Linked DNA regions of Homo sapiens: region 2 is linked to region 1. Evidence: fine-mapped expression QTL. Tissue or cell type: sun-exposed skin. Region 1 holds a variant in brackets; the other region holds the start of a gene. All regions are shown on one strand. Distances are from middle to middle.

What was found. PIP is the estimated chance that this variant, and not a neighbour inherited with it, causes the effect.
Region 2: it holds the start of RAPGEF4, and the variant in region 1 is fine-mapped to the expression of RAPGEF4 in sun-exposed skin (GTEx, PIP above 0.99). The same link has a PIP of 0.9 or more in unexposed skin.

What each region holds. Positions count from the first base shown.
Region 1 is chr2:173,016,149-173,024,254 of GRCh38, forward strand. It overlaps RAPGEF4 (Rap guanine nucleotide exchange factor 4), which reads left to right. Exons shown (of 31, transcript NM_007023.4): 19 at 201-289; 20 at 1,026-1,056; 21 at 1,278-1,356; 22 at 2,508-2,654; 23 at 4,470-4,567. Among named protein-coding and RNA genes, the nearest start is that of MAP3K20, 56 kb to the right of the region's middle. The variant T/G (reference allele first, on the strand shown) is at 3,414.
Region 2 is chr2:172,731,912-172,740,017 of GRCh38, forward strand. It overlaps RAPGEF4 (Rap guanine nucleotide exchange factor 4), which reads left to right and starts at 3,934. Exons shown (of 31, transcript NM_007023.4): 1 at 3,934-4,137. The coding sequence starts at 4,073. RAPGEF4-AS1 (RAPGEF4 antisense RNA 1) reads right to left here and starts at 4,295. Exons shown (of 4, transcript NR_026995.1): 1 at 4,215-4,295; 2 at 3,384-3,550; 3 at 2,394-2,522.

The DNA.
Region 1 (8,106 bases):
TCCAAAATTTTTTCTCATGGCCAATTTTGAACTTAGACATAGTGTAACATTTTCTTCTTTGTTCTTCCTCCAGTCCATGAAGCCATGGTCTGGAGATGCTGGTGAAGCAGATGACATAGGGACACATCTTTATTGCTCTTGACAGAATCATGTGCCTTTTGCAGTTCTTGTTAAAAGCCTGTGACTTTTGCCAATTACAGGAGTTTTATGTATCTGTATCAGATGATGCCCGGATGATTGCTGCCCTCAAGGAGCAACTGCCAGAGTTGGAGAAGATTGTCAAGCAAATGTAAGGAAGGGCTTGACTGTGGGGGTGTGCTTTCATCAAGTAAATCTCAAAAAGTCCTTTGCCCACAAGAAAGGTTAAAGCTGGTCTTTCCATAGCCATGCCCCGCTTGATTTGATTTAAGCAGACTGGGCTGAGGGCATAGGTGGTGCAGTAAGGCCAGAGGAACAGAAGGACTGAGATTCTGTTCATTCTGTGCTAGAGGGCTGCCAAAAGATAGCCTGGGAAAGAAAAGATCCTCCTGGGTGGAGTCCAACTCAATAAACCTGGGTCCCTTAGGTTCAAGGCAGTGAATCTGGCAATAAAATGGCCAGCGGCATTTAAAGAAAGTTTGAGGGCAACTACTTATATGGAAAATTCACTAACTGCTGCCAAAGCTGTTGGTGGTGAATATTTGTGTCCTCTCAATGAACCAGAAGGTTTTCACATGCTATTACTTGAACTATAGATTAAATGCAGTATCAGAGAGTGAGTGTGCTGCTAGATAGACTTTGAAAGCTAGAAATCCTGGCTTTGAACATCGGTTCTGCCAGGAATCTGCCTGTGACAAGAGCTGATATCTTTGCTGTCTACCCTTCTGCTTTGATCTATTACTATTAAAATGAGGAAGCTCATATTGTCTCCTGAAAGGATTCTGTGATTGTGATTTCATTTTCTAACATAAGATTAGTTATATACAAATAAGGCAATTTAATAGTAGCAATGGTATTAAATAATGTGCTTTCTCTACTTCTCGTAGCTCAGAAGATGCAAAGGCACCACAAAAGAAGGTAGGTGGCATGAACTTGCATTCTCTGTCTGTGTCCTGTAGAATTACAATTCCCCAGAAATATTATATTGCAGTATACATAAAAGTGATTTCTTTTTTGTAGACGTGAAATATATTGTCTTCATTTCTTGACTCTGCTTGCTTCTCAGATGTGTCTTCTCTGAGATGCTAGCATGCATTGGTCACTGTCCCTTATGGCACTTGCTGTGGTTGTTTTTACAGCACAAGGTTCTTTTGCAACAGTTCAATACGGGCGATGAGAGAGCCCAGAAGCGCCAGCCTATCCGCGGCTCTGATGAAGGTGAGAACCCTCTTCCAACTAACTCGTAGTTGTATAGATTATTTAGTCAGGATAATGGTAAGCATCACCTTGGACCCACAGAATAGCTTCTTTTGAAGATGCCCTGTTGCCCTCCAGATGGTTTGCTTGGAGGTGCCCTTTGGTGGCCCGATTATTTATGTCCTTAAACTCTTGTGCCTGAAGCCGAGATGCCTGTCTACCTTTCCCTGATTTGGCCTCTCCCTGCTTAACCCCTTTCCTTGGAGGAAATGAAGATGATCTCAGGGCCTGGTTGTCAGGATTGCCCACCCCTGGGAAAAGCTGGTGGGAAGGTAGCTGGCGCCTAGTGGGTGCCAAGGAGACAATGGATCACCAGCATCCTGCCCAGGGACAATGCTCTGGCCCTGAGCCCAGCCCTGAGCAGGGAGGCTTTACATCAGGAAGATCAAGATGCTGGCTTTTGTTTGGTTATTTAAGATTCTCCAAAGAATCACAACCAAAAATAGTCACAATAATAATGATAAAAATTTCATTTAAAGCTATAAATAAATCTTGTCATTTAGGACTGCCTCTAAACCCAGGAATTATAATATAATAATGGGAATTGCTCCCAGGATTTTTGTGTTCAGAGTTGAGCCTCTGGGTGCCATATCCAGATCTGCTGATCTAAGTCTGCTGAGCTAAATAGCATCCGAGCTTACATGGCCTGGCCCCAAAGCACACAAGCCACTGAAGCAAGTGAGCAGGAGTGTCAGCACGTGCTCATGGCCCAGGCGGAAGCCCTCCTGTGTGCAGAGAGGTGAATGGTGTCTCCCCACTGCCACACAGGGTAGCAGTGATCTGTGAATTGCCTACAGTATAGCACTTCAGACCCTGAACATCAGCCTGAAGATACTCTCAATTTTTTCCCATGACCTCTTTGTGGGGTTTTCACCAATATCTCTTGTTCTTTTAATTGGACTTGGCAACCATATGTGCACCTATTCTTAGACCAATGCTAAGGTAAGCAGTTTAGAAGGGGCAGGAATAGGGGTAAATGAGTATGAATAAATACAGTAACAAAAATGGCAAAATGATGCAAATTGGAGAGGATGCCTAAACATTTTTCATAACTATAGTTTTATTGAAAACTCTTAAGAGTGATTTACTACCTTGTTACTGCCTTTGGATAGTTCTGTTTAAGGTCTATTGCATGGACCACACCTACACAACCATTCGGGTGCCAGTGGCCACTTCGGTGAAGGAAGTCATCAGTGCAGTTGCCGACAAGCTGGGCTCCGGGGAGGGCCTGATCATAGTCAAGATGAGTTCCGGAGGAGGTAACAGTCTTAATTCATATTTTAGGCTCTGCAAAATGGGACATTCCATCCAAGCAGAAACTATGTAAGGAGTTAGCGTGGTCATGTGAGGCTCACCCAGAGGATGAACTGGTGCTTATGTATGCTTCCACTAATAACAGAAACAGTATGGGTAGAGGTGGGTTGGGTTTCTAATGTCCCCTATCTGGTAGGTACCCACTCTAAATCAGAAAGGTGACTGGAACTGAGGACTGTCGTGTAGATGTTGGCCTGGAGTTCTTTCAATTTAAACTCTATTCAAAAAAGTTTTAGGCCTTGGAGCCCTGAAAAATATGGGCCCCAAGAGGAAATCTAGCTGGACAAGCTCAAGGCCATGGGTTTCTACAAGTCCAAAGTTGGAAGTGGTCAGAAGCTAGTTCTTTGAAGCTGATGATGGTTTTTCTCCTTACTCAGTAGAGAGGCTAGGAGCCTGGCTCAAATGAAATGAGGAATATTTTTCCTCCACGGGATTACAGTTCCTTTCACTGTCCTTGATTACATGGTGCATTTTTGAAATGTCATTTATTCGTTCATCACATATTTACTGGCCACAGTGTGGCTACGAAGGAAAGAATGAGTTAGACACAGCTCACGTCCCCAGGTTGTTCCCAGGCCAGGGAGGAGGTAGACGGTAAGTTAAAACAATTACAGTTCATGCTGGCAAGAGTTTTAGGAATGACCACATATTGTAGTGAGAGACTAGAGGAAGCAACAGTGAGGTTCATTTCTCCAGTCATGATT[T/G]GACAGCCATTTGGCGGAATCCTTCAGGAACAGGTGAGCCATTTCTGTCATGTTTTAAGGTGAATGATTCCACTGATGGAGGATTTTTAAATGCATGTTGGATTTTAAGATCTCCCTTCCATTTCTGCTCCAGTTGCACAAGGCCCAGGATGTCTGCCCTCCCTGACCCCTTGTCACCTTCCCATAGATATCCCAGGTCTCACCCTCACTTTCTTTCAGTCTTTACCCAAATGTCAGTGTCTCACTGAAGCTCCCTCCTTCATTTGCTTCATTCCCTTTCTAAAATGTTAACTTCTTCCCCTTACACAAGCTTCCTAGACCCCACCCCTGTGATATTTTTTTCTCCTTGCCTTCTCACTCTGTAATCTATTTCTTTTCTTTATTGTTGGCATCTCCCACTATGATGTAATGCTTTTTGGAGTGGGATTTTTTTTCTGTATTGTTCCCTTCTGTCTCCCCAGTGCCTGGAGCAGTTTCTGGCATGCAGTAAATACAAAATAAATGTTTATTAAATGAACTAATTTTTTAATTTTTTTGACATGTTCTCATCTGAAGAACTAATTTTTTTAATGTGGGAGGAGGCTTAATCTAGTTAATGCTATTGCCCTGCAAATTAGGGAATAAGTGAAAAAACAATAGTAAATTTTGCATCTAAAATCATGTGAGGTCTCAGAAACCTCCAAAGTTTTTAAAAAGTGATCTTTCTATGTCCAAAGTCCTGGGTGTGATTACCATCTGGAAACATAACTTGTGAGATAAATAGCCAAGTGCGGGTTTTATGTGCTCAGTAATTATGGTTGCAGCACAAAACTGGGTGAATTGACCCTCTGGCATCTCTATTCCTTTTTGTGGCCATTTCTGAAGGCATCCTGAGTGGCGCAGGGCTGCATGAATGCCGTCTTTTTTATTCCGTGGATCCCTTCAGTACTCTATTTTATGCAGTCACTCTGCGTGTTCCGGTAATTCACCAAGCTGGCAATTTGTTGGTGTGATTAGGGCAGTGCAGCAAATCTCAGATGTATTTAATAGGCAATCTCATGCTTTTTATGTTCACAGAAAAGGTGGTGCTCAAACCTAATGATGTTTCAGTATTTACGACGCTCACCATTAATGGACGCCTGTTTGCTTGCCCGCGAGAGCAATTCGATTCACTGGTAGGTGTGGATGGCCTGCTCAGAGCAGCATTGCAATCAGAAAAACTTGTCTGGAGCCTAATTTTGCAGTCACACTGAACCCAGTGGCTAAAAAATCTTGAATGGTACTTAGCTTTTTCTTTTTCTGCAGTCTATTAGGTAAGCCTCAGGTGTTCATTTGAGATGCTCAGGGCTTTTGATTTTCTTTTGTGAAAATTAGCCAAGTAGCACCACTATTAGGGCATAATTCAGCTTTCAGAACTCTTTGTTGTAATTCGCCTCATTGGTATGTCCCCAGTTTAAATATTAAGAATCTGAATACTTACACCAGGATGGAAATAATTTTTCTAAAGCAAGATATCACTATTTATCAGGCTCCTTTGCATTATGGCAAAGCCACCATCTGATCTAAGAGAAATGCTGTTCCCCAAAAGCACTTTCTCTACCTTATGCAGAAAATGGCAAAGTCCAGACCCTTCCCTAAGTCTCCAAAAACACTTGTTACCCAGCATACAGACAGATCTTTCTGTGAAGAAAAGACTAATAGGACCACACTAATAACTGAGTAGCCTGCTCTCTTTTAAGTCGGTGGTAGCATCCATTTCTATTTCTCCTACCAGAATTTGGTATGTAGGTGAGTAGCTAGTAACATATCTTAGAAAGCCTAGAGGGCCAATTCAGAGGGTAGAGAAACTGGTTTCTTCAGTCTTTGGATACACGGGGTTTCTCCTTTAAGAAAGGCACAAGACCGAGCGTGGTGGCGGGCGCCTGTAGTCCCAGCTACTCAGGAGGCTGAGGCAGGAGAATGGCGTGAACCCGGGAGGCGGAGCTTGCAGTGAGCCAAGATGGCGCCACTGCACTCCAGCCTGGGCAACAGAGCGAGACTCTGCCTCAAAAACAAAGAAAAGAAAAGAAAGGCACAAGACAAGAGCTAGAGGTAAACTGCATCCAATTTTAGGGAGAGAGTTTACATAAGGGATGCATGAGTAGGTTTCAAGTTTGATCAGATCAGCTCTTATAGATATCAAGATTCTCTTCCTTGGACTTTTTAGAGGTTGTTTCAGGCTCATCATAATCCTGATTTTTTGTTTTAGAGAGTACCATTTTGTGCACTCCAGTGAGGATAGGTGGATTTTTACCATATTTTGAATTCACTTGGAGAGGAACTTAGCAAATGTGGCATTAGTTTTCCTGCTAATCCCTCATCCATCAGAGCCCATAAGCACGCTCACCTTTCCTCAATCACCAGCCTTATAAGATCTGAGTCTGCCTCCCGCCTTTCCGTATATTTTTTTAGTCATCTACATTCATTGCTTTCTAAATAAATATTTCTCAATACTGAAGGATTGGGGAAAAAAATGTCATAAATGAGTCGTGCTGCCCTCTCCTGGAAAGGAAAGCCATAAAAAGCCAGTTCAGCGCAGCCCCATTAAAGGTGCTATGTGACATGTTACTGCACGGGTGCTGGGGACTCTCTTGCCAGAGGGTTCTTGGCCGCAGTGCCAAATGACATGGCGCAGACACAGGGAGTGCAGACTGTCTTCAGCTCCCTGTGGGGCAGATACTAACTTTCTAAACCTCTGTTTGTTGGCACACAGTCCTGCAGCCTTCCAAGTTCTTAGTCCTTGCTCGTCCTCTGTTTTAAGGCCTCTGTCGTTGGAAGGAATGTCCTCTGCATTGAGTACCCTGGGCATGAACTTCTTCCCTATCAGCGCTCTGCCATTCATTGTGCTGTGAGTGGCCAAACCTTACCTGCCTCACATAACTGTGGACAATGAGCTCCTTCTCTGGCTTTCTAAAGATTCCCTTTGAGGACAGCCCATCGAGGAGGAGTCGCACAGAGGATGACCCTGCAGTAGAGAATGTTGGCCACACTCTCTGATCCATCCACACATGCTTCTGCAGGGTCTGCTCTGTGCTTGGGGCTGTGCTGGCTTCTGTGAGACACTAAACCAAGTGCCCCAGAGCCTCTGTCCTTACCGCAGTTACGCTAAAGCCAGAGAGATGAGACTAACACAAGCAGCCTGGAATAGAACAAGTCTTAGTGTTCAATGTTAGCCTTAAATTGTGTGGTCTATAATAGAATCAGTAGAGTGCTGGCAAGTTAGCCTAGTGGTTAAGGGTTCAGATTCTGAAACTTTACTCTTCACATTTTATTTAAGTATAAATATCAGTACAGAGCAAATTCCTATAAAACTCCATTGTAGTATAATGTGATTCTACTTTTGTCCATTCACTGGTTCCTCAGACTTTTATTTAGTACCTACCACATCATCGCAGGCATTGTAGATGGTTCTGGCTCTAAAATGGTCTTGAAGACAAAACCATCATGGTCCTTGTACCTCAGTGAGCAAACAGTGTAGTGAGGCACCCCCGCATGTGACCAGTGAGAATGCAGTGCAGCAAGGGCCATAGCAGAGCTAGACACAGAGGGTGTGGGCACACGAGGAAAGGAAGATGCTCCGGGTAGCTTACCTTCACCATCTCTTTGTCACTGACAATCCACACATCCCTTTTATGTCTTAGTCTCCTCATCTGGAAAATGGGAGGATAACAATGCTACTCTCCCAATTACCCCTCTCCAGCCTTAGCAAAGAAATCATGGCTCAAAAACCGTGGGGAGAAAATGCATGGGAGTTCTGTGTCTGTGGGTAAGCAGCTTTCAGATCTGTCTGTGCGATGCAGGCTCCACATAAGCTCTGCTGTGCCTTATCTGTAGGACATTTCCACAGGGCTATGTACAAGAAAATGGCCCAAGGAGGCGCTTCCTCTGGGGTCCAGGGTGAGCATTTATATTCCCCACTTCTAAGGGAGAAGCACCTTTTGCTGCTCACATTGCCTCTTCCGTGGCTCATGGAAGGGGTCAACCTGCCCTACGCCGGGAGAGAGACTTGGTGAGCCCTGCCCACTGAAAGAAAAGTTGAGACTCAACAGAGCTTTCCGTTACTCTCAAAAGGGTTGCAGGAGTGATAGACCAGCATCCACGACTAAAAGAACTTTGCATATTTCTTAATATTAGACTCTTCCCTGTGTTGTTAGGTAAACTTGTCCCCCTTATGTAAAGTTATAAAGCCTCAAGGAAAAGAAGGAGCAAGGTGTACTGGGTATCTCCAATCCTGAGGAGAGAGCAAACAGCAGGAATAACGTAGGAGGGGCAGCTCCGCAGAGCAGCAGAAGGGCTGTGTTCACAGCAGCTGCAAGAGGGAAGGAAGAACGTGCAAGGCCAGTTTGATCCTCTGAGAGGCAGTCGTAAACCCTAAAATGTATAAGCTTCCCCAACTTTTTTTACCTAGGACCTACCCTGGTTGAAATCATTCTCCTCATTTGTTTCCATATGCTACTTGCCCATCAGCTTCGGTTCAGTTCCCTAAGATTTAAAACTTTGGAATCACTTTTCTTCCCTGTCCTCTGTCCCCTGTGTAGAGTAAATTGGGAGCAACAGTATTTCGCTCCTACATCCAGGTGTTGTACTGATCACACTTTTCTGTGTATTTGCATTGCTACAGCACTTCTTTTTTTTATTATTTTTTTTTTTTTTTTTGAGACGGAGTCTCGCTCTG
Region 2 (8,106 bases), 280 kb before region 1:
AGCATAAGTGATCTCGACAGCTTATCACCACCAGGTCCCTGTGAAATGCAGAGAGCACCTAGTATTATTTGCACTATATGGAGAATAATAGCTAAGAGTTATTGAACACTCACTATGTGCTTGGCACTTATGCTAAATATCTTACAAATACCAAATTCATGTATAATACTATTAATTTCTCCACTCTACAGATGATGAAACGGAGTCTTAGGCTAAGTAGTTAATTTAAGGCCAAACATTTAGTAGAAGATATGGCTGCAATTTGAACTTGGCTGCCTGCCTTCAAATTCCTAACTTTGAACCTCTGCTCAGATGAACAAAATGGAAATCAGACATTTTAGCAACTCATTCGAGGATCTACATAGCATTAACAGATATTGGTCTTGTCTCATCCTTGTCTCATGGAGATCTTCAGTAGAGATCTTAGTTCTCTAGTAGAGAAAGAATTCACTAAACTATAGGAAGGAGATTAAACAGATAATACCTTTTCCAAGTGAAAAAACAAGTCTCAAAAGATAGTGTAAGTAAATTATAACTGTACACTAGAATATTTGGTGGCCAGGAAAAAATGTTTAAGGATTTTTTAAGGAAAGTAAAGCATTTTTCCATTCCAATAGAAAAAGTAGCCTATAAACTATTAATGCTTTCAAGTCTGTTTGAATACATGTATCTATACACATACATATATGCACACATATACATACACATAGCTAGTTATATGTATGTGTTTGTGGGTACATGTATGATCATATCACTTCTAATTTTTAATTTTTTTTTAATTTTTGTAGAGATGGGGGGGGTCTCACTATGTTGCCCTGGCTGGTCTTGAACTCCTGGCCTCAAGCAATCCTCCTGCCTTGTCCTCCGAAATTGTTGGGACTACAGATGTGAGCCACTGTGCTTGGCCTTGATTGTATCTTTTCATAATAGAAAAGTTTAGAATTAAATGCACTAAAATATTAACAGTATTACCTCTATGTTATGGAATTATGGGTAATTTTTACTTTTTCTCCTATATTTTTCTCTGTTTCCCCCCAAAAGATCAATCATATTATTTTTCCTCTCCATATAGGTTTATTAATATTTTATTTACTTAACATTTTTATTGAGATAATTTGCATACTGTAAAATTCACTCATTTTAACTATACCATTTGATGATTGTTATTAAATTTATAGAGTTGTGTATCCATCACCACAGTTCAATTTTAGATCATTTCTAGAAGATTTCTCAGGCCCATCTGCAGTCATCCCTTATTCCCACCTCCCAGCCTTAGGCAATCCCTAATCTATTTTCCATCTCTATAGATTCGCTTTTTCTGGAAGTTTCACATAAATAGGATCATACAACATATGCTCTTTTGGGACTGACATATATTGTGTTCTTTTAAAGAGAGGGAAATGAATAAATATTCTTTGGTTCTTTGCCTTTCCCATCCAATCCAAGCAAAAGCCTGTTTTCTTCCTCTTAATACTATAATAACTAATTATCAACAGAGTTTCCTTTACTCCTGTAGTTCTTGACCAGCAATCAAATCCCTTTCAGATCACAAGATAATCTATAGGACAGTAAAGCTATTCCTGATGTTTTAAGGATCTCTGTTTTTTAATTCCTCACACATTTCTCTATTTTTACATTAAAAAACTGATTTATAACTATTTTGTTCTTACCCTCTGGACAGTCATTGTAGACATGCCCTATACTCCCATTCTATTGGCAGAAACAGGGACACCATCACTGATGTGGAAGGGTTTGGAATCAGACAGACCCAAATTCCACTCCGGGGCCCCATCTCCTGTAGCTGGGTTATGGACCCTTCCTGAGTTCAGTGTCTTAGTGAGTATCTTGGAGTTACTTGTACCTACCTCCAGGGCTGGATGAAGACATGAGCATGCTCTGGACAAGCTAGTGATTGTTGGTTCTCCTTCGAAAGGATGTTCTTTAAATAAGTCTTCAACTTCTCTTTAGAGAAGAGGCAGGGCCCCCACACAGCAAAACAAAGGCCTTGCAGTTCATCAGAGCTACACTCCTTAAAATGCACTGTGGACTCCTCGAGGGTCTCACTCTCACTCCCAGCAGCTCATCAGTGTCTTCCTTCCAATCCAATTAACACTCTCCCTGAAAGTACTGATACATATCATTTTCAATATTTCACTACATTTTCAAGGATATTTATTGCTGTTTGTGGAGTAGTGTCTTTCTGGCTCTGCCTCATAGAGTGTTCTGAAGATTAAATGGGATCACACATGTAAGGAGTACTGCACAGGGTCTAACACTCAGTGGATGTTCAATAAATGGCGACTATTATTAGTATCATAACCAAAGCTATGGCAACTCTGAGCCTCTGTGTGATGACAGGTGATGTGCAGCTCCTTTCTCCTCTAGCTCCTTACCTGGAAACCTTCTTTGCAGAAAGGCATTTTCAGAAAGCTTTTGGTGACCTTGAAACATTCTCAGGTGCTCTCTGATGTCTTTATAAATGAAACTTAATATATATAGGAGATACAGTTCCTCCTTCATACCTGTATAGTAAAAAAGCCACAACATAAATACCTTTGGTTAATCTTTCTATAGTATATTATTTTAAATATTAGCATAAACATGATAGAAATTAACAGAATGAAGGTTAACTGGGGGAAAAGCCCTGAGCAGGGAGGGAGGAGTTGCTGTGGGAACACTGTGGCAGGTCTGAAACTAGATCCTGGCTATCCAGCAGAGGGAAATGGCACATATTTGGAGGCTTTTATATCATGGTAATAATTGTTTTATTAGGATCAAAGCATCCCAGAAAGCACTTGCTCTTTCCTTCTCTCCAGTCCCCCTGACTCTCCCCTGAGCAGGGTTGGATAGGAGGTTTGGTGGGGGGAGGAGGCAGGGAACAGTAGAAGAAAGCAATGCTATGTCCCTTTCCCCCATTGTCTGGCCCCAAATGTAGTGCCATAAATATCAAAACAGTGCTTGGTAATAGTCCAAAACATTTAACTTGTCCGCAAATTCCTAAACAACCATTGGCGTGTAATTTGGTTCTTGGCAGAGTGTAACTGAATAACTTGTAGACATGACATTTGTGTGAACATCTACAAGAGACAGGCCGTTATCACCACCCATTCAACACTCCAGCCAGAGGAAGAACAGCAAGGGGGCCAGCCATACAAGTTCACCTGCGCGTCCGGGGTCTCGGTTCTGCTGTGGCCCGGCTACTCCCCATTCTCAACTGTGTTTTCTTCACCATGCAGGTGATGGAAGCCCAGGCAGGCCCAGGGTTCAAGGCCAGTGACTTCAGCCTGTCACCCCCTCAGACCACATCGGGCCCACCGGCCTCCTCCCTCCCTGCCCCTCAGCCCTGCCCGCACTGCCCCCCATTGCGCCCAGCCCTTCCTCACCCCGCAGGAGAAGCTGGCCTCTCATTCCTCACTGAGAGACTCGACGGGCGTCCCCACGCCAAGCCTTCCTCGCCCTCCCCTCCAGCCTTTTCTGAAGGGGAGACAGCAAAGGTGAGCAAGCAACCGCCGGCAAGTTTCGACAGCTGCTGAGGAAGACTCATGGGTTTCTAAGGAAACAGAGAGGCAGCAGCCATTTTAGTAGCATTTGCTGTATGAAAAATATATAGACACTGGCAGCCCTCTCCCCACTCTGCCTTGGCGCCTGCCCTCCCGCCCCGCCTCAGAGGCCCCGGGGTGAGGGTGGGGCCCCAGTCTCCGAGGGACGCAGCGGACACCTGTCGCAGGTGGCCGGCCACCGGGGTCGCCACCCCCAGTGTCCCCCAGCAGCGGGACCGCGGGGTCCCCACCCCGGGGCGGAATCCCCACCCACGGGCGCCGCAGTGCAGCGGCGGGCGGGCGGGCGACTCGGCCCTCCCCGCACCCGCGTCCCGCCCCCCGGGTCCCCTCCCTCTCCCCACCGCCCCAGGCCGCGGGAGCCCGCGGGGAGGGCGGGCCTGTCGCAGCCGCGCTGGTCGCCAGGCGTCCGGGAGGAGCGGGGTCCGCGCGGCGGACGAGGCGGGGGCGGAGGCGCAGGCAGAGCGAGCGCGGGAGGTCGCCGCAGCCAGGGACACCGCGCGCCGCCGCTCAACATGGTCGCTGCGCACGCTGCCCATTCTTCCTCCTCTGCCGAGTGGATCGCCTGCCTGGATAAAAGGTAGCTCGCCGGGGGCCGCAGCCGGGGGCCGAGCTCTGCGGTGCTGCCCGGGCCCTGAGACCGCCGCAGCTCCGCACCTGGGCGCAGCGCGGCCGGGCTGCGGGTGGCCGGGGTCCCCGAGCGGGGGAAGGGGTTGAGGTCCTCGTCCGGGAGACAGGAGGACAAGGATCCCCGCCTCTCGTGGGGTGCCAGCGGCATGAGATTATTACACGTGGTGGAGAAAATGCAGCGCAGTAAGGGGAGAGAGCACCCACCTCTCCAACCCCCTGCCCTGCCGCGACTCCAGGCTCCGCTCCTGGGTGGGGGTTTATTTTCTCTTGGCATCACGGGACAGAAGAATCGATGCATACCCTTTCCGGCTATTCAGACCTTGCGGGGTATGAAGTTTTAAAGAGGGGTGGGGGCACCGGCAGGTGCAGAGTAACATTCTTTTTTTGTTCTTGAAAGCAAAGTGTGAGGGACCCGGTGGAGCTGTCGAATCCCTTGCTGAAATTCACAGCTCTCTGCCCCCGCAGTCGCTCGCTCAAGGTCTGTGTTAGAGAAGGTCATTTGGGAGGCTGCTTTCGTCTTAATACCTGCTTCTCGGGAAAAGATCTTTACGCTAAAAATAATTAAAACCATAAAGCATGTAACTCCCGACGACAGCTCTCTCTAAGGAGGATGTGTGTGTTAACAGTGGATTGCAGTTGTTTCCAGGCTGTGACAGCATAATTTTCTGTTTGTCCAGATTGCAGGTTTAAACGTTACACAGTATGTTAGCAATTATAGCTTATTACCCTGATTAAAAGGTGATGCATCTGAACTTTTAAGAACTGAGCAAGAAATCTTGCAGAGTGAACTGCCTCTGAATTTCGGAGTTTGATGCAGAAGGGCAATGATGCACGTCTTGCAGCTATCTGCATGACATCTCTATTTGCATTTGTGTGAAATATTTTGTGCTCTGCCATATTGAAAAATTTTCAATTAACAGATTCGTAACCAGATCAAACTTGAAAATCTTAAGTGTGACGTGCTTTGCATACTCTATTATAGGCCTTTGTTGAAAAATATTAAGTAATTTGAGAAAAGCTAAATGTAGCTCATTTGAAAAGCTTAATATATCTGAGAAATAATCTTGACTTTCAATTACCACTCAGTAGCAAGATTTTTTGGCAGGTAGTGCCCTATTTATGTCTAAAATGATATGTACTAATATTAAAAGAGTTGCATGCAATAAATAGTAAGAGAATTAAAGTAATAGTTAAATCACACAGGATTATGTAGAAGAACTAAGAGTATTTAAAGTATAGAGGTTGTTAATGTGATAAGTATCTACATTTAATAGTTCAGGAAAAAGGAATTATATGGGATTCAGGATCTTGCACTTAACCTATAAATAGTAGTGCTTCCTTATGAGCAAAATTTTTAGATAATAACATATTTCTATGTGTAGAAATGCATGGCATGGCATTTTTTGAACAGTCGGTAATTCACTGGAAACCCGTTAGTCAATAAGAAGTACTTATGGCAAAATCATAGAGCAATACTAACACAAGTGGGACATATTCGACTCTCTCTTTTCATAATGTGTATCTGCCTAAATGATTTTGCTTGAAATGGATTTTTTAGAGCATGGTGCCCCCATTTAATGCCACCATTCATAATGGGAAAAAAATCTAGGAAAAAAAAAAAAACCCTTCACAGATACTGAGCCTAGCATCAGAAGAGTCAGATGAGTGGATAGATCAATAAGTTAAGGGTTTTAGGCACAGAGCTGTTACCAGTTCTGATATTGGACATGTCACTTTTACTTCCTTGAGTGTCTGAAAAATGAGGATAGGACTATCAGGGATAAGTGGACAAATGGAAGGAGAAAAAAAAGGTGAAATAGTTTGAAAACTGTGAGTGCCATGTAGGCTTTTTGTTTTGTGGTATTAAAAGAACTTTGCATGTTCTGCAGTGTTCATGCCAGAATTAATTCCAATGAGGAACAGTTTAGGGCAGCAATCTCATTGTATGAAGGCCATGGGGGGACTTGTTTTGAAGTTGTGTTTTTACTTAGATTGTTTATTTATTTATTTTTTTTAGGAAAGGAGAAAGGTTGAGAGTGTTTATGGAAGTTGGCTAGGGAAGCCCCCTGAAACACCTGTTTAGTGGAGACACTGCCCTCAATGTTTCTGAGAAATGCTGTCTTGATCCTCTTTTCCAGGCACTGTGAAATGCTATCTTGATCCTCTTTTAAATGCTATCTTGATCTTCTTTTCCAGGCACTGTGCTGGGCACTGGGGATGCAACAAAATATGAGAGTTGCTTGTAGGCTTAGAGGGTAGGGGAGATTGGTGGTGGGACGGCTCTATAAACAGCTAACCACAATGCAATAGTAAGTGCTTTAATGGAGATGTATAAAGTGCTTTGGGAATGCAGATGAGAGAGTTATCGAGATACTTCCATAGGTGTCCTGCCTAGAACTCAGAGGCTGAGAACAATTTTACCAGGCACAGAATAGGGAGGGCATGCCAGGGAGTGGTGTGGCATATGAATATGCTAATTTCTTCCCAACCACAAATTCCTCTTGTGACCAAATCTAGAGTATAGGAATGTATGCTCTATTTTTATAAAATCTTTTTTATTATGGACATTTTCAACCCTGCACAAAAGAGAAAGTACAATGAACCCATGTGGGTTCACTTGGGAATATGATGCTGGGACCTTTCAACTGGGAAAAGGACGTAACTGGGAAACACAGTTCAAATATATGCCTCATTCAAGTGACAACTGTTGTGGATGGTGAAAAAAAGAGAAACCCTGGGACTGGAAATAAAAAGAGAGTTAAAAGAGAAAGTCTGCAGTAGTAAAGAAGTATACAATGAAATTTGAAGTGAAACAAAACACAAGGAAAATAGAGCCTTAAAGTGTTTGTTAGGAATGCCTAGAAAGCTATCATAGACAGGACAATATTTGCAAGTGGGGAAGGGTGTTGCAAGTGTTGTAGATATGTAGATTAGATTAAAGAAACAAAATCTATAGCTTTTTATGTATCAATCATCCACCATCTTGGACTATGGTGGGACTGAGGAGATGAGGGTCTACAAATACTAATCTTAAAACCAGAAAGACAGGACATTGAACATTTGGATGGATAAACCAACATTGAAAAAAGTCTCAGCAGATGTATTGTTAGAGTAAAACAAGCTCACCACTATCTCAGGGATCTTACCATTTTTTTCTGAGGGGATGGCAACTAGGAACAAATTACATAGTTCCCACTATTTGGGACTTAAGATAGGTAAAATGTCCTTTCTTTTTTTTTTTTAAGTGTGCTGACCATTGTTTAAGTTTTTTTGTTTTTGTTTTTGTTTTTTGAGATGGAGTCTCACTCTGTCACCCAGGCTGGAGTGCAACGGTGTGATCTTGACTCACTGCAACCTCCCCCTCCTGGTTTCAAGTAATTCTCGTGTCTCAGCCTCCCGAGTAGCTGGGATTACAGGCACACACCACCATGCCTGCCTAATTTTTGTATTTTTATAGAGACAGGGTTTCACCATGTTGGCCAGGCTGGTCTTGGACTCCTGACCTCAGCTGATCCGCTCGCCTTGGCCTCCCAAAGTGCTGGGAATACAGGTGTGAGCCACCACACCCGGCCCATTGTTTAATTTTAATGAAAATATTTTTCCCGTAAGATTTTAAATTTGCCAACTGTGAACTTCAGATCCACTTATAAGTCCTAGTTCTCAGGGTTGGTAAAGGAGTATTATGAAGGGACAGGGACCATACACATTCATGTAGTATAGCGACTCATTGCTGGCATTCATCATGATGGGACAGGCATTGACAAGCTATGGCCTGTGGGCCAGATCTGACAGCTTGCCCGTATGTCTCGTGGGCTAAGAATGGTTTTCACATTCCTGAATGGTTGGAAATAAATCAAAAGAAGATCAGTATTTTGTGACCCATGAAATTTAGATGAAATTCAAATTTCAGTGTCTATAA